Linked DNA regions of Homo sapiens: all the other regions are linked to region 3. Evidence: fine-mapped expression QTL. A gene starts in region 3. Each other region holds a variant in brackets. All regions are shown on one strand. Distances are between the middles of the regions. Region 1 overlaps HEPHL1 (hephaestin like 1). Region 2 holds the start of IZUMO1R (IZUMO1 receptor, JUNO). Region 3 holds the start of GPR83 (G protein-coupled receptor 83).

The links. PIP is the estimated chance that this variant, and not a neighbour inherited with it, causes the effect. A credible set is the group of variants that fine-mapping cannot tell apart.
Region 1: its variant is the best candidate, but not a certain one, in a credible set for the expression of GPR83 in skeletal muscle (GTEx, PIP 0.73).
Region 2: its variant is the best candidate, but not a certain one, in a credible set for the expression of GPR83 in thyroid (GTEx, PIP 0.60).

What each region holds. Positions count from the first base shown.
Region 1 is chr11:94,094,776-94,100,640 of GRCh38, forward strand. All of the region lies in intron 13 of HEPHL1 (hephaestin like 1), which reads left to right. Among named protein-coding and RNA genes, the nearest start is that of PANX1, 31 kb to the right of the region's middle. The variant T/C (reference allele first, on the strand shown) is at 3,171.
Region 2 is chr11:94,301,150-94,307,014 of GRCh38, forward strand. It overlaps IZUMO1R (IZUMO1 receptor, JUNO), which reads left to right and starts at 3,431. Exons shown (of 5, transcript NM_001199206.4): 1 at 3,431-3,730; 2 at 4,482-4,625; 3 at 5,364-5,573. The coding sequence starts at 4,488. The variant T/C (reference allele first, on the strand shown) is at 2,896.
Region 3 is chr11:94,398,827-94,404,691 of GRCh38, forward strand. It overlaps GPR83 (G protein-coupled receptor 83), which reads right to left and starts at 2,593. Exons shown (of 4, transcript NM_016540.4): 1 at 2,035-2,593. The coding sequence starts at 2,421.

The DNA.
Region 1 (5,865 bases), 300 kb before region 3:
TGTTGGCTGCATAAATGTCTTCTTTTGAGAAGCATCTGTTCATATCCTTCACCCACTTGTTGATAGGGTTGTTTTTTTCTTGTAAATTTGTTTGAGTTCTTTGTAGATTCTGGATATTAGCCCTTTGCCAGATGATTAGATTGCAAAAATATTCTACCATTCTGTAGATTACCTGTTCACTCTGATGGTAGTTTCTTTTGCTGTGCAGGAGCTCTTTAGTTTAATTAGATACGATTTGTCAATTTTGGCTTTTGTTGCCATTGCTTTTGGTGTTTTAGACATGAAGTCCTTGCCCATACCTATGTCCTGAGTAGTATTGCCTAGGTTTTCTTCTAGGGTTTTTATGGTTTTAGGTCTAACATTTAAGTCTTTAATCAATCTTGAATTAATTTTTGTATAAGGTGTAAGGAAGGGATCCAGTTTCAGCTTTCTACATATGGCTAGCCAGTTTTCCCAGCACCATTTATTAAATAGGGAATCTTTCCTCATTTCTTGTTTTTGTCAGGTTTGTCAAAGATCAGATGGTTGTAGATGTGTGGTATTATTTCTGAGGGCTCTGTTCTGTTCCATTGGTCTATATCTTTGTTTTGGTACCAGTACCATGCTGTTTTGGCTACTACAGCCTTGTAGTACAGTTTGAAGTCAGGTAGCATGATGCCTCCAGCTTAGTTCTTTTGGCTTAGGATTGACTTGGCAATGTGGGCTCTTTTTTGGTTCCATATGAACTTTAAAGTAGTTTTTTCCAATTCTGTGAAGAAAGTCATTGGTAGCTTGATGGGGATGGCATTGAATCTATAAATTACCTTGGGCAATGGCAGTATGGCCATTGGGAAATGGCAGTATGGCCATTTTCATGATATTGATTCTTCCTATCCATGAGCATGGAATATTCTTCTGTTTGTTTGTGTCCTCTTTTATTTTGTTGAGCAGTGGTTTGTAGTTCTCCTTGAAGAGGTCCTTCACATCCCTTGTAAGTTGGATTCCTAGGTATTTTATTGTCTTTGAAGCAATTGTGAATGGGAGTTCATGATTTAGCTCTCTGTTTGTCTGTTATTGGTGTATAAGAATGCTTGTGATTTTTGCACATTGATTTTGTATCCTGAGACTTTGCTGAAGTTGCTTATCAGCTTAAGGAGATTTTGGGCTGAGACAATGGGGTTTTCTAAATATACAACCATGTCATCTGCAAACAGGGACAATTTGACTTCCTCTATTCCTAATTGAATACCCTTTATTTCTTTCTCCTGCCTAATTGACCTGGCCAGAACTTCCAACACTATGTTGAACAGAAGTGGTGAGAGAGGGCATCCCTGTCTTGTGCCAGTTTTCAAAGGGAATGCTTCCAGTTTTTGCCCATTCAGTATGATATTGGCTGTCGGTTTGTCATAGATAGCTCTTATTATTTTGAGATACATCCCATGAATACCTAATTTATTGAGAGTTTTTAGCATGAAGCGCTGTTGAATTTTTTCTAAGGTCTGTTCTGCAGCTATTGAGATAATCACGTGGTTTTTGTCTTTGGTTCTGTTTATGTGATGGATTACGTTTATTGATTTGCATTATGTTGAACCAGTCTTGCATCCCAGGGATGAAGCCCACTTGATCATGGTGGATAAACTTTTTGATGTGCTGCTGGATTCGTTTGCCAGTATTTTATTGAGGATTTTTGCATCAATGTTCATTAGGGATATTGGTCTAAAAGTCTCTTTTTTGGTTGTGTCTGCCAGGCTTTGGTATCAGGATGATGCTGGCCTCATAAAATGAGTTAGGGAGGATTCCCTCTTTTTCTATTGATTGGAATAGTTTCAGAAGGAATGGTACCAGCTCCTCCTTGTACCTCTGGTAGAATTCGGCTGTAAATATGTCTGGTCCTGGACTTTTTTTGTTTGGTAGGCTATTAATTATTGCCTCAATTTCAGAACACGTTATTGGTCTATTCAGTAATTCAACTTCTTCCTGGTTTAGTCTTGGGAGGGTGTATGTGTCGAGGAATTTATCCATTTCTTCTAGATTTTCTAGTTTATTTGCATAGAGGTGTTTATAGTATTCTCTGATGGTAGTTTGTATTTCTGTGGGATCAGTGATGATATCCCCTTTATCATTTTTTATTGCGCCTATTTGATTCTTCTCTCTCTTCTTCTTTGATAGTCTTGCTGGCAGTCTGTCAATTTTGTTGATCTTTTCAAAAAACCAGCTCCTGGATTCATTGATTTTTTGAAGGGTTTTTTGTGTCTCTCTCTCCTTCAGTTCTGCTCTGATCTTAGTTATTTCTTGCCTTCTGCTAGCTTTTGAATGTGTTTGCTCTTGCTTATCTTGTTATTTTAATTGTGCTGTTAGTGTGTCAATTTTAGATCTTTCCTGCTTTCTCTTGTGGGCATTTAGTGCTATAAATTTCCCTCTACACACTGCTTTAAATGTGTCCCAGAGATTCTGGTATGTTGTGTCTTTGTTCTCATTGGTTTCAAAGAACATCGATTTCTGCCTTCATTTTGTTATGTACCCAGTAGTCATTCAGGAGCAGGTTGTTCAGTTTCCATGCAGTTGAGTGATTTTGAGTGAGTTCCTTAATCCTGAGTTCTAGTTTGATTGCACTGTGGTCTGAGAGACAGTTTGTTATAATTTCTGTTCTTTTACATTTGCTCAGTAGTGCTTTACTTCCAACTATGTGGTCAGTTTTGGAATAAGTGCGATGTGGTGCTGAGAAGAATGTTTATTCTGCTGATTTGGGGTAGAGAGTTCTGTAGGTGTCTATCAGCTCTGCTTGGTGCAGAGCTGAGTTCAATTCCTGGATATCCTTGTTAACTTTCTGTCTCATTGATCTGTCTAATGTTGACAGTGGGGTGTTAAAGTCTCCCATTATTATTGTGTGGGAGTCTAAATCTCTTTGTAGGTCTCTAAGGACTTGCTTTATGAATCTGGGTGCTCCTGTATTGGGTGTATATATATTTAGGTTAGTTAGCTCTTCTTGTTGAATTGATCCCTTTACCAGTATGTAATGGCCTTCTTTGTCTCTTCTGACCTTTGTTGGTTTAAAGTCTGTTTTATCAGAGACTAGGATTGCAACCCCTGCCTTTTTGTTTTCCATTTGCTTAGTAGATCTTCCTTCATCCCTTTATTCTGAGCCTGTGTGTGTCTCTGCACGTGAGATGGGCCTCCTGAATACAGCACAC[T/C]GATGGGTCTTGACTCTTTATCCAATTTGCCAGTCTTTGTCTTTTAATTGGAACATTTCACCCATTTACATTTAAGGTTAATATTGTTATGTGTGAATTTGATCCTGTCATTATGATGTTAGCTGGTTATTTCACTCATTAGTTGATGCAGTTTCTTCCTAGCATCGATGATCTTTACAATTTGGCATGTTTTTGCAGTGGCTGGTACTGATTGTTCCTTTCCATGTTTAGTGCTTCCTTCAGGAGCTCTTGTAATGCAGGCCTGGTGGTGACAAAATCTCTCAGCATTTGCTTGTCTGTAAAGGATTTTATTTCTCCACTTATGAAGCTTAGTTTGGCTGGATATGAAATTCTGAGTTGAAAATTCTTTTCTTTAAGTATGTTGAATATTGGCCCCCACTCTCTTCTGGCTTGTAGAGTTTCTGCTGAGAGATCCGCTGTTAGTCTGATGGGCTTCCCTTTGTGGGTAACCCGACCTTTCTCTCTGGCTGCCCATAACATTTTTTCCTTCATTTCAGCTTTGGTGAATCTGACAATTATGTGTCTTGTAGTTGCTCTTCTCGAGGAGTATCTTTGTGGCATTCTCTGTATTTCCTGAATCTGAATGTTGGCCTGCCTTGCTAGGTTGGGGAAGTTCTCCTGGATAATATCCTGCAGAGTGTTTTCCAACTTGATTCCATTCTCCTCGTCACTTTCAGGTACACCAGTCAGACGCAGATTTGGTCTTTTCACATAGTCCTATATTTCTTGGAGGCTTTGTTCGTTTCTTTTTACTCTTTTTTCTCTAAACTTCTCTTCTCACTTCATTTCATTCATTTGATCTTCAATCACTGATACCCTTTCTTCCAGTTGATCGAATCGGCTACTGAAGCTTGTGCATTCATTATGTAGTTCTCGTGCCATGGTTTTCAGCTCTATCAGGTCATTTAAGGACTTCTCTACACTGGTTATTCTAGTTAGCCATTCATCTAATCTTTTTTCAAGGTTTTTAGCTTCTTTGCGATGGGTTCGAACATCCTCCTTTAGCTTGGAGAAGTCTGATCGTCTGAAGCCTTCTTCTCTCAACTCGTCAAAGTCATTCTCCATCCAGCTTTGTTCTGTTGCTGGCTAGGAGCTGCGTTCCTTTGGTGGGGGAGAGGCACTCTGATTTTTAGAATTTTCAGCTTTTCTGCTCTGTTTTTTCCCCATCTTTGTGGTTTTATCTACCTTTGGTCTTTGATGATGGTGATGTACAGATGGGGTTTTGGTGTGGATTTGCTCTCTGTTTGTTAGTTTTCCTTCTAACAGTCAGGGCCCTCAGCTGCAGGTCTGTTGGAGTTTGCTGGAGGTCCACTCTGGACCCTGTTTGCCTGGATATCAGCAGCGGAGGCTGCAGAACAGCGAATATTTCTGAACAGCAAATGTTGCTGCCTGATCCTTCTTCTGGAAGCTTCATCTCAGAGGGGTGCCTGGCCGTGTGAGGTGTCAGTCTGCCCCTACTGGAGGGTGACTCCCAGTTAGGCTACTTGGGTGTCAGGGACCCACTTGAGGAGGCAGTCTGACCATTCTCAGATCTCAAACTCTGTGCTGGGAGAACCACTACTCTCTTCAAAGCTGTCAGACAGGGACATTTACGTCTGCAGAGGTTTCTGCTGCCTTTTGTTCGGCTATGCCTTGCCCCCAGGGGTGGAGTCTACAGAGGCAGGCAGGCCTCCTCGAGCTGCGGTGGGCTCCACCCAGTTCGAGCTTCCCAGCCGCTTTGTTTACCTACTCAAGCCTTAGCAATGGTGGGCGCCCCTCCCCCAGCCTCACTGCCACCTTGCAGTTTGATCTCAGACTGCTGTGCTAGCAATGAGTGAGGCTCCTTGGGTGTGGGTCCATCTGAGCCAGGCACCGGCTATAATCTCCTGGTGTGCCGTTTGCTAAGACCATTGGAAAAGCGCAGTATTAGGGTAGGAGTGACCCGATTTTCCAGGTGCCATCTGTCACAGCTTCCCTTGGTCGGAAAGGGAATTCCCTGACCCCTTGTGCTTCCCAGGTAAGGCGATGCCTCTCCCTGCTTCGGCTCACGCTCGGTGGGCTGCACCCACTGTCCTGCCCCCACTGTCTGACAAGCCGCAGTGAGATGAACCCGGTACCTCAGTTGGAAATGCAGAAATCACCTGTCTTCTGCGTCGCTCACACTGGGAGCTGTAGACTGGAGCTGTTCCTATTCATCCATCTTGGAACTACCCCCTAAGAATATTTTAAGAAATTGAGAGAAAATTGAAAATAATAACCGTCCAACAAATTTTAGATTTATATATACCTTTCTCAGAAAAGCAATTAAAACCATGGCTTGAATCAGCAAGGAATTGATATGTGTGGCCAGACCACCAACTGTCAGTGTATCTCCCTGTGAATGTAGAATGCACCAGATACCCAAGAGAGAGCCATAGGGATCAGGCACTTCTGAAATGGGAGTCTACTGACCATGAAGCAGTGCACAAGTCATGCTGCCACAGGCCCTCTGAGCCAGGTGTGGGCTCATCTCCATTGGCACCCAGCCTGGTTGCTTCCAACAGAAATGCACACACCAGAGGGGCTGAAGAGTGCTTGTCTCCTTGGGTAAACAAATATTGAGAAACAGAGTTAGATGTGCATTTGTGAAGTCACTATATTAATCATAAATTAATACATAAATGATTTTATTTCCCTCTACTCTTTCAGATTCCTT
Region 2 (5,865 bases), 98 kb before region 3:
ATCCCTAGACACAGAGGCTGGGCTATGACAGAACAGCCCTGGAAGTGGGGCCCCTGCAAGCGGCAGGACAATGACAGGCCGTCAGGCCTCAGGAGTGCCCAGAGCATCAATGAGAGCAAGTACAACAGATTAAGATCTAAAAGTAAATAAAAACCACATTTAAAAGGGCTGGTGTGCCATGTTAAGGACCTGGGACTTACCTTAAGGTCTAGAAAGGTTTTAAACATGGGAGCATCATAATTGTCTTTACATTTTTAAAAGATCATTCTGAAAAACAAAGACTGCAAACAAATGTTGAACCCTAGTTAATGATATGCATGTTTGAATTACTTAGGAAGACATCAGTTTACTGATATCTGCAATTTACTTTGAAATACATAAAAAATAATAAGACTGATACCTGAATAGAGAGAAGGATGGTTGGCTAAATATATAATAAAGAAAATATAATAAAATGGTAATGGTGAAATCTAAGTGGTGGGCATATGAGAGAGAGTTCACTATAAAATTATCTCAACTTTATGTTTGAAAACTTTCATAATTAAAATACTGATAAAAGAAACGAAATAATTATATGAAAAATATACCTGCATTCTTATGTTTATTACAGCACTATTCACAATAGTAAAGATTTGGAATCAACCTAAGTGTTCATTAACAGATGAATGGATAAAGTAAATGTGGTAAAATATATACAATGATACACTATTCATCCATATAAAAGAATGAAATCGTATCTTTTGCAGTAACATGGATGGAACTGAAGCCACTATCTTAAGTAAAACAACTCAAACAAAAAGTCAAATACTGCATTTTCTCACTTAAAAGTGGAAGCTAAATAATGTGTACACATGGACATAGAGCATGGAATAATAGATGTTGGAGACTCAGAAGGGCGGGAGGGGGTGAGGTATAAGAAATTACATAATGAGTACAATGTACAAAGCACAGACTTCACCACTGTGCAATATATCCATGTAACCAAACTGCACTTATACCCTTAAATTTATACAAATTTAAAAAAATTCTGAGAAATTAGATCATTATGGCTGCTACTTGATTAAAGCTCTGGAAAAGGGTGGGAGAGCTAGTTAGGAGGTTGTTGCAGTAACTGAGGCAAGAGCCGATCATGGTCCAGACAGTAAGTAAGGGATGTGAATTCAAGAGATATTTAGAAAGTTAAATCAACAGCTTCGGCGATTGGATAGACATAGAGTGAAGAATAAATTAATATCCCTATTTACCTCCCTAGACAGAAACCAATTAAGAGTTTACATGAGGATGGTCAATCAGGTTTGGGGTGAGAAGAATTCATGAGACCCAGTAAGAACTCTGAATCACTGAAGTCCCCTTCGGCTGGCCTCTGACATCAGATTCTCACCAGGAGACTCCTGGCTCTAGCTCTTCACTTTCGTAGTCTGTTCTCAAATTCAGTGGGGGAGTGACCTCAGGATGGGAGAGGGGAAGGAAGTCATCACTGCCCAGCATCTCCAGTGGCCCCAAACCAGAGCCAAGGCTGGGTTGCTTCACCTACTGCCCTGCCCTCCTTGTCCTCCCTCAGAGCCCGCTGAAGGCTGCTGTACCTCTTCTTTTGGAAACGCAAGTGTTGGTTTTGTTGTGTGTGTGTGTGTTTTAGAATAAAAATTGTCTTGAATCAGCCACTTCAAATTGCTTCATCTACAGTCAGCTTTGACTTATCTGCTTTCAGTCAGAAAACAGATTGCTATGGAAGGCTCAGTCACAATAAGGCAAAAATGAGCTTTGCTCAAGGGTCTCAAGCTGCATCTCCCGAGAGCAGATGCTGGCCGGCCTGATGGTTCTCTGAAAGGCAGCCTCACTCACTGGGTAATTCCTTCCTCCCTCCCTCCCTCCCTCCCTCCACCTGCATATGCGCTGGCTGCAATTTTAGCTCATTTCCTACAGCTTTGTCCTGGAGACTGTTATCAAGCAAGCCGCCCTTCGTCCTTCTTCACACCCTATGAAGGACAGTTGTCAGAGGACCTATTTCCATTTCAATAATTACTCTTGTGATTCATGTCTGGATTCTCGGCTCTGGCACCTCCACAGCCATTTTAAACTGAACCTTAAACCCCAAATCTCTTACCTTATCAATGCTTGGAGCTTCCTGAATATTCATGAGGAACTGAACAGAACATGACAGCCTGCTTCTCCCTCTGTCAGGCTATAGAGATGCTATTACCATTTGGTATCTGACCCTAAGGAGGAGACTCCAGGCTCTGCTTAACGTGGGGACATGGGAGACTGGGTTAATAACTGTCACTGTTCTAGAATAAAGCCAACACACGCCTCCCAATACATGCACAACCTCATTATGGCATTTAACGTTAAAAAAAAAAAAAAAGCAGACCTCACTTGAGACCCAGGCACCCAGGCAGTATCTACTCTTTTAGTCCCGGAGGTTTCTCCCTCACCTGGTCCTTAAGCATTAGATAGGGAGTCGAGAATACCTGAAATTATATCCCAGCTCTGCTACTCACCGCTGAGCCTCAGTTCCCCACAGCTAAAACAAGGAGGGTGTTCATATTGGAGGTCTTTTTGAGACCTCAGATCCTGTAGACAGTACCAGGCCAGTGCCTGGCTCCTTGTTTGTGCTCAGCATTCAGTGGCTGTGATTACCCAGGTGTGGAGAATGTCATTTTCCAACATTAGTATATGCTTTACACATCAGTTGTAGCTGAACACCACAGAATGTATTTTATTCCATTAAAAAAACGCTTTTAGTGTTTTGTTTTCATTTCCTTTGTATCAATAAAACTTCAGTGATTTCAGCTACTTCTCTTTCAGAGAGAGAAAGAGAGGACATATTATAAAAACAAAGAAATATGCTCCTTTTCCAGCATTTTTATCATCTTTGGGACTCTCCCAAGAATCCTA[T/C]CCAAGTTTCCAATCTCTCCTTAGCTGAAAAGGATAGTCTTGCAAATATGATCACTGCTGAGAACACTTGTAGAATATTTCACAGGACAACGATTCCTGTATGCTAAGGGAGGCTGCTTGGCGGGTTATGGAGGGACTTTCTTTGTTTTGTTTGCTTTGGCTTTGTTTGTATGTTTAAATTCTTGGGTCCCCAAGGCCACACTTCATCTCTGCATCCTGTGTCCTCGGTCTGTGCTCCAGCAGGGACCATAGTTCCTGTGGGCTGTGCGAGGACACTGTCAGAAAAGCCACCAGGTGACTGAGCTGATGCTTGGCTAACAGTGAAGGGGCAGGTAGAGCTACGGAACAGAACATAGGAGGGGCGTGTGGAGAGAGGATAAAAGAATAAAATTTAAAACCATTAAGACTTCCTCTATCCCAGGCACAATGCCAAGGTTTTTGTTCATGAACTTTCTCTTTATTTTTCCAATCCCATAATAAAAACTTCCTTTACAGAGAGAGAAACTGACAGAGAATTTGAGTCATTTTCTCCAGGGCAGCCAGCTAGTAAGTAGCAGAGCTGACAGCCGAACCCGGTAACTTATTGTAGAGCCCCGGATCTTGCCTACGATGGGGTCTGTTTCTCTGAGGAAGCAAACTTCCTCGGAACCCACAGGCCTGCAGAGCTGGGTGAGACAGATGCTGTTTAATGAGAGCCACGTGGAGTTCTCCTCCTGCACCTGGACCTAGTAGAAATCAGACTGGGTAATAAATGGGCGGGACATGGAACTCCCCTCAGCCTCATAGTCTCAGGGGGAGGAGGGAGCAGGAGCACCTGAAGGCTCCTGCCTTGAAAGTGAGTATGAAGAGAGTGCTGGAAGGGGCAGCATCTTTCCTCCTTTTACCTAACAGATCTGATTCTTTAAAAATATTCAAGGCCATGGCTGAGCTTGAAACTGGTTGTCTGGAGAGAGAACAGCCTTAGATTTGGACTTGAGGTTGGGCTCTGAAGAGGGGGGCTGGGCTCTTCTTCCCCAGGATGTTTGAGGCTCTTAGACCAGGGTAGGCTAGAAGTTTCCAGTTTCACCATGATGGGTCCAGGTCAGGCTCCTGCCAGACTTGGGGGACTGGGGGAGCCATGGGCTCCTGGGCTATGAAGGTGAGGGGCCCTGTGTCCTAAGAGGTTGGGTGCTTGAGGCCTGGGGCCCCTCTGCCTTTTGCTTTGTTTTGTCTCTCTTTCCACTACCTCTCATTACCACTACTACCCAGAACAGAGTTGGAAATAGGAAGGGCCCTCCTCCTCATTCCTGTGATGGGGATCAGGCTTTGGATGTAGAAGGCTCCTCCTATCTGACTCATGCCTCGGCATGCCCCTGGCTCTGCAGGGCCAGCAAGGCCTCCAGCACTGTGTCAGGCCTCCAAGGATTATTCTACCTGCCCTGACATTCTGTGATGCTGCCTCCAAAAGAAGGTCCTAGGAGCAGCCAGAGTGTTGCAATTATTTGAGGGAGATTGAAGCCCATCCCCCTTTCCCAGTGCCTGCTATGATGAAGGGGGTGGAGTGGGGTGTCATTTCCATCAAGTGTGCAGCATGGGTCTCTCTGTAGCAGGCCATGGCATGCTGGTGGCCGCTCCTGCTAGAGCTGTGGACAGTCATGCCCACCTGGGCTGGGGACGAGCTGCTCAACATCTGCATGAATGCCAAACACCACAAGAGAGTGCCCAGCCCAGAAGACAAGCTCTATGAGGAGGTACAGAGGCCAGACCTGGGTATGGGATGGGGAAGATCAGGGAAGGGACACAAATGCCAAGATGGTCTCCGAACCTCATCAACCCTGATCATTTGGTTCCTGGGGTTAGGAGTTAAGCAAAGGCAACTAGATGGAAAGAGACTATGCCTTTTTGAGACCATAAGAGCCAAGCGATTCAAAGTTCCCATTTCTGAGCTGCTCTAGCCACTGGGAAAGCAGGGACCGCTGGTGATCCCAGAGATCCATTGTTGACTCGGCACAGATGAAAACAAGCCTTCCTGCCAACAGGTCCTGGGGCAACATATGACTTATGTGACCCCTCCCCAAGCTCCTAAAGGCAATTTCCAGGGATATGGGAGGAAGAACACAGCTGGCATTTGGCCTATGAGACCCTCCCACCCAATGCAACCCCAGATTCCCCTGGGTCTCTCTGGGGCTCTTCTACCTGCTTTGCCCTAAAAGGCTTCTGCTGCCTCTCAGGAGCTGAGAGCCCAGAAGTTGTGTTTCTAGAGGACTGTAGCAGCCTGTGGCAGGGGGTCATTGTGCAGGTGCCTCTGCCCTTTGGGTAAATATTGAGAGATTATCAGGGTTCCTCTTATGTAGGGGCTTACTAGCTAAAGGCATCCCACTTGCTCAGGCCTCCTAAGGGACATTTTCATTTCACCACCTTTCTTCCCTAGACACTTGCCGATCCTTGCCCCTTTTGCCTGGGCCTTTTGTTTCTTCCTCTGCCTTCAGTGCATCCCCTGGAAGGACAATGCCTGCTGCACCCTCACGACAAGCTGGGAAGCCCATCTGGATGTATCCCCACTCTACAACTTCAGCCTGTTTCACTGTGGACTGCTGATGCCTGGCTGTCGGAAGCACTTCATCCAGGCTATCTGCTTCTATGAGTGCTCCCCAAACCTGGGGCCCTGGATCCAGCCAGTGGGAAGCCTGGGGTGGGAGGTAGGAAGCAGATCTGTGCCATGCCCTGTTATTATATTAACAGCCAGAGCTTTCACCCGATCTTATGCTGATGCCGCCAGGATGCTAGTAGGAACAGGAGGTGTTATTTCCCTATGGACAAGAGCAGAGCCAGAGGCCCCTGCTGGAGAATCACATGGGGGAGACTGTTCTGACAACAGTGGGATGAGGGGCTATCACCACAGGAGGCTTGGTGGAGTTGACAGACCTGAGCTTCAGTCTCATGTTCTGTCCCTACCAGCTGTATAGCCCAGGACAAACTATTAAATCTCTT
Region 3 (5,865 bases):
CTCCCTTTCCTACCTGCCAGCACCTTATAAACTGTAATCCAAGTTTGGATTGGGGCAGCTTGATGGGTCAGGTTCAAGGCTAAGCTGCTTTGGCTCATACTGGAGGGGGTGCTGGGCTCTGAGGACCTTGGCATCCTGTCTCTTGCAGGAGATCCTCTGGGGCAGGTATTGCCAGCTCTCAGGTGTAGCCTGTCCTCGCGTCCATGGCCTCCCTACCCCTTCTTGTGTCTGCTGCAGATCCAGCCCTGTATCCTGGCTCTGGGCAGCAGCAAAAAAGGCCATGTTCTGTGGCTTCCCAGTTCCCAACCTAGGTAGCACAGCCCAACCGTACCACTGTAGATTCTCAGGTCAGAAACCAAGGGAGGCGCCAACGGGTGACAGGGATGCTGTTGTCTTGTGCTTTGAGACACCCAGGGAGGAGGAGAGTATTTGAAAGCCCACTCATCCTTGGGTAATGCCCAGGGGATATTAAGTGGCCATCAATACGTTAGACGTAGGCTGAAAGGAGATCAGAACAAGTCCAGGGTTTGGAGTAGCAGAAGCTAAACATGGTCCAAGAGTGTCCTTCACTCCCAGCTGGCTGGTTAGTGGACCGACCTCTGGATTTGAGTTAGGGGATGGAATTCTCATCCTGGCTCTGCCAACTACTGGCCAGGTGGCTTTGGACAAGGGATTGAACCTCTCTGTGCCCTAGTTTTCTCATCTGCAAAATGTGAGTAATATTCTAATAAGTGAGGATGAGAAAGAGAATGTGAGGGTACTTTTTCAATATAAGATTTGGAAGGATGTTCACACAGGTGATGGACTTGTGGGGGTTCATCCTGTGTTTTTTGCTTGTCTGTTATATCTGGTTGTGTATGAGAGATGGCAAGGAGACAGACAGAGAGGGATTAATAGATATTGCTTTAGTAATCACTCAAATGACAAAGTTATTCCATAAAATGAAAAAATATAACACACTAGAGAAACATGCAGTATAACTGTCACTATGGTTGCTCAGTCATCGCCCTTACAGTCCCAAATCATCCATGAGAGCCACACTCCCCGGTCACAGCGGGACACCACCAGCGCTAAGTAGCCAGGGCTTGGGGAAGAATCCCATCAGCTGCCAATGTGCAAATGCCCCCAGCCTGCCCGATTTCTGGGGCCCAAGCCCACCTCCCCTCATTTCTTCCTCAACACAGACCTCAAACACAGCCTCATTATCAACCCACAGAAGGGAAATGCACTTTAAATAAGTGGTCTGGGAAAATGCACTTAATGTTCCATTAACAATTAGCAATTGTTTGATATTTCAGTTGTAGCACAAAGCAGTATCCCATGGGTACGGCTGGGCACTGAACAGGCTGCAATTCAGAGGGAGGGGGACCTGATCATCTCTGCTGACATTTCAGGGGCATTGATTTACTGCTCAATTATCAAGCAAGCCCAGACCCAGTGAGATTAAACAGGAAATGGTCATTCATTTCCAGCTGGCTGCAGACACTCAAACCATTGACCCAATGCCACCGCCGCAGAAGCTCTGGCTGATAAGGCGATGAGACAGAAAAAAGTGGGGAGAAATCAGAGAGTGAGGCAGGGGAGAGAGGAAGAGAGGAGAGGTGGGGAGAGGAGAGGAGAGGAGAGAGAATAGAAAAATAAAATCACAGAGAGACTGACAAGAAGAAAAAGAGATAACAGGTGAGGAGACAGAGACAGATGAATAGGGAGGCTGAAAGACAAAAAAAAAAAAAAAGATGAGGACACTGAGAGATAGAGAAGAGAGACAGAAAGACTTCAGAGAGAGAGACAGAGACTGAAAGAAAGACTAAGAAAAACAGGAGAGATACAAGAACCGAGATGACAGAGGAGGGAGAAAAGAGACTAGGACAGGAAGACAGAGGCAGAGGAGAGGAGAAATGAGGAGGAAGAGAGATGTGGAGAGAGAAGTGGGGACCCACAGGGAGACGCAGAACGGCAGAGGGAGGCCAGAGAACTGAGAGAGGAAAGGGAGACGAAGACAGAAGGTGGGGCGGCAGGCAGCGGGCCCCTTACCAAAGTGAAGGGGGTGTTGAGCAGCGTGATCATTATGTCGGCAACTGCCAGGTTGACGATGAAGAGGCTGGTGGCCGAGTGCATTCGCTGGTTCTTGAAGATGACATGACAGACCAGGACGTTGCCAAAGAGTGAGAAGACAATGATGAAGGAGTAAGCCACAATGAGCAGGGCTTTCACCGTGGGGTTCTGGGACTCAGCGCCGTAGCGCCTCCTGCCCACAAAGTTCTGCCAGTCGGAGAAGGTGTAGTTGTTCCAAGAGAAGAAGTGCGAGGCATTGGGCACGGCCAGGGCCGCCTCCGCGCTCTGCTCGTCGGCCCGGCCCTCGTGGGGCTCGGTGGCTCGCACCAAGGGGAGGAGACAGAGCAGCAAGAGGTGAGGGACCATTTTGCAGGAGCCACCCCTCCCCTGGGAGCCTGCGGGCCGGGCGTCCCCTCCCGCTGGGATCGGAGCGCGCAGCCGGGGTGCGGGGCGCACAGCATACAAGGCCGTCCCGAGGAGCCAGGGAGCCCGGACGCGCGGAGCACCGCGCCGCCCGCCACCAGCCCGCGGTCGGCACGCCAGCTCCGGGTTTGTTGGAGCACTTTTATATCTCTGCTCCCACCAGGCTGCTAGGGAGCGCCTCTGCCTATTGGGCAGCGCGGCGTCTCTCGCGGCGACGGTGACGCGCTCTGGCTCTGACAAGCCTGGCTCCCCCCACCCTACCGGGTGGCGCCGTTGCTGACCCCACGCCCAGCCGTTCCCACTCCCGCCTGAAACTCCTCCGACAGGGCTTCGCTTCGGGGGCTCAGTCCCCAGCGCGTACACACTCGCGTGGTGTCGGCTTAGCCTCTTGTAAAGGAAGCAGGGCAGGCAGGTGGGAGGAAGCCCACAGGGGCACTTGGGATGATGAGGGGGCATGCTGGCAAAGCCGGGTCAGTGACAAGGATATATTCCATTTGTTTCCACCTAAGCCTTAGCCTTGGCACAGTTTCAATATCGAAATGGATCGCTGCGTCCCGGCGGTCCCAGGAAAAAGGCAAACCAAAAAATAGAGACGTTAAGGATTCTCCAAGTCCCCGGAGTATCCAGATACCAGAGGTGCTGGAGGGCTTATTAAAGGATTACAGTTTCTTTGACAGCCCCCAGGAATGCAATCTGGGGAGCTTTGTTTTTCAAGGAAACTCTTCAAAGCAGTTCGGATACCATCAAAGAAGCGAAGGAAAAGAGAAGTTTAGCTGTGTGCTCACCTCTTGGGTAACTTGAATTTTTCTGCCATGGAAGTCCTTGAAGCTATATCTTTAAGGGATATTATGACCCATGCTGTTTTTCCTTCCCCATCTACTTCTTCAGGAAACCTTGCTATCCTGCTCACCCGTTTTCACTTCCACTGTGAAAACTCTCCCAGTCACTGGGTCCTCTGCCACCCACAAGCCTGTAGTAAAGACCATGGGCTCTGTAATTAGGGTTTAATCCCAGCTTTGTCACTTCCTAGCTGTGAAATCTTGGGCAAGCCATTTAACATTTTTGGCCTTGGTTAAAAGGCTTTCTTTTCCTAAATGTGAGGTTTTCAGAGACCCCTGTATACATCTCTCACTGCATTGCCCTCTGGTGCAAGACATGCAATATCTGGTTGACTACTGGTAACCACCCCTGACCCCCAACAGGAAACACCATGTAGATTCTTTACATTGTGTCAACGTGCCCTGGGGAGCAATGTCCTTGGGCTGGGACCCAAACAATGACTCAAACCTAGGTATTACTCTTGTCTCCAGTTTTCCACTTCACATGTACTCTTCAAGCAACTGTGTCTGGAGGAAAGGATGGCTAGCAGATAACCCTCAATTATACTGAAGGACCTGGCAGGTCTCACAGGATTAAATGGCTGAAATAGGGGATTATGTGACAGATCCTAGAAGGGACAAGGTGCTAGGCCGATGAAATAATACATCTTTAGCTCCAGGAAATAAACCAAGAGACTGCCTGTAAACACTGAAAGCTTGGGGGCCGGGCGCGGTGGCTCACGCCTGCAATCCCAGCACTTTGGGAGGTCGAGGCGGGCGGATCCACGAGGTAGGAGACCGAGACCATCCTGGCTAACACGGTGAAACCCCATCTCTACTAAAAATACAAAAAATTAGCTGGGCGTGGTGGCAAGCGCCTGTAGTCCCAGCTACTCAGGAGGCTGAGGCAGGAGAATGGCGTGAACCCGGGAGGCGGAGCTTGCAGTGAGCCGAGATCGCGCCACTGCACTCCAGCCTGGGCGACAGAGCGAGACTCCGTCTCAAAAAGAAAAAAGCTTAGGTAGACTTGCTGCTCCATCAAGATGACCTGGCATCATCTTGAGAGGCAAGGCCGGAATATGATGGTCATTTAGAAAACAGAATCCTAGTCAATTGACTGTGCCCAGTGTCAACAAAGAGTGTATGGATAGAAGAGGAATAGTCAGCGTCAAGCTCAGAGAAAGAAATCAAAGGTAGCCAGTGCCCTTCCAAGCACTCTCTTCCAAGTACCACAGAAGGTGCTTGCTAGCCGGCATATTTGTAATCTGGGCCACCTAACTAATGTCTTCACTTTGATTCCCTGCTCATCATGCCCACCTTGTAAGTGTGAGGGCATTTACACCAGAAGCCTGAAACTTTCTTTCTGAAAGAGGTGAGGTGTTTTAGTTCTTAGCTTTCCCCAAAAGCATCTCCTGTGACAAATACTCTAGTGAGAGGGTTCATTTGGGAGATGAAGGCAAACACCAATAGGGAAGTGGAGAAGTGTGACAAGAAAGGGAAAGCAACCAATAGAGTTTTGTCAAGCCAGCTACCACTGTGGGTGACAAGCTGAAGCCTGCTGGGAAGCCAGTGTAAGGTGTACACATCAGCTATCCAAGCCAAGGGGTGACAGAGCTGTGGTATCTGTACTCCACCTCCTGTTAGTCACTGGTTGAAGGCTTCTCCCAGGGGTCTGCTCCTTCTCCCAGGATGCTCCTGAACTTCTGGCCTGCCATGTGGATAGCCAAAATGGGCTCCAGAGGCAAAACAAGGGCTCAGGCAAATAAATGCTACTGCTGGCAGTTGCAAGTTGCACTGGTGTGCTCTGAAGGGGGAGGCGGTCCTGAGAAAATCCAAGGGTAGGCATGAGGTCTGGAATCACTTCCTCTTCCTCTTCCCCAGGCATTCAGCTCTCCACTCAGCCAGGCCTGGGCCTCCTGAGCCCTGCCAAGCCCTCCTCTTAGCCCAGCACCACTGTCCCAAACTTATCCTGAACTCCTGAAGTCACAGTCTTTGAGACAGAGTCTCGCTCTGTCACCCAGGCTGGAGTGCAGTGGCGTGATGTCGGCTCACTGCAAGCTCCGCCTCCTGGGTTCACGCCATTCTCCTGTCTCAGCCTCCCAAGGAGCTGGGACTACAGGCGCCTGCCACCACACCTAGCTAATTTTTTCTATTTTTTTGTAGAGACGGGGTTTCACTGTGTTAGCCAGGATGGTCTCGATCTCCTGACCTCGTGATCCACCCGCCTCGTGATCCACCCGCTTCGGCCTCCCAAAGTGCTGGGATTACAGGCGTGAGCCACTGTGCCCGGCCGAAGTCACAGTCTTTAATGAAACAAGAATATCCCTTCACCTTACCTCACACGAAGGCTGAGTTATTAAAAGTAGTTCTTTTCTCAGAGGCGTTATGGTAAATCACTGTAAATCACTGTTGCTCTTACTAAGTGGTTACAGGAAGATACAAGCAGCTCTTACAGTGAACCAACCTCTTGTTTTTGTACATTACAAATAAAACCAAAGACACTGAATAGTCAGTTTGTGCCAAATAGTAAGTATATTCCTAGATCTCTAGTAATAGTCACACACAGTAA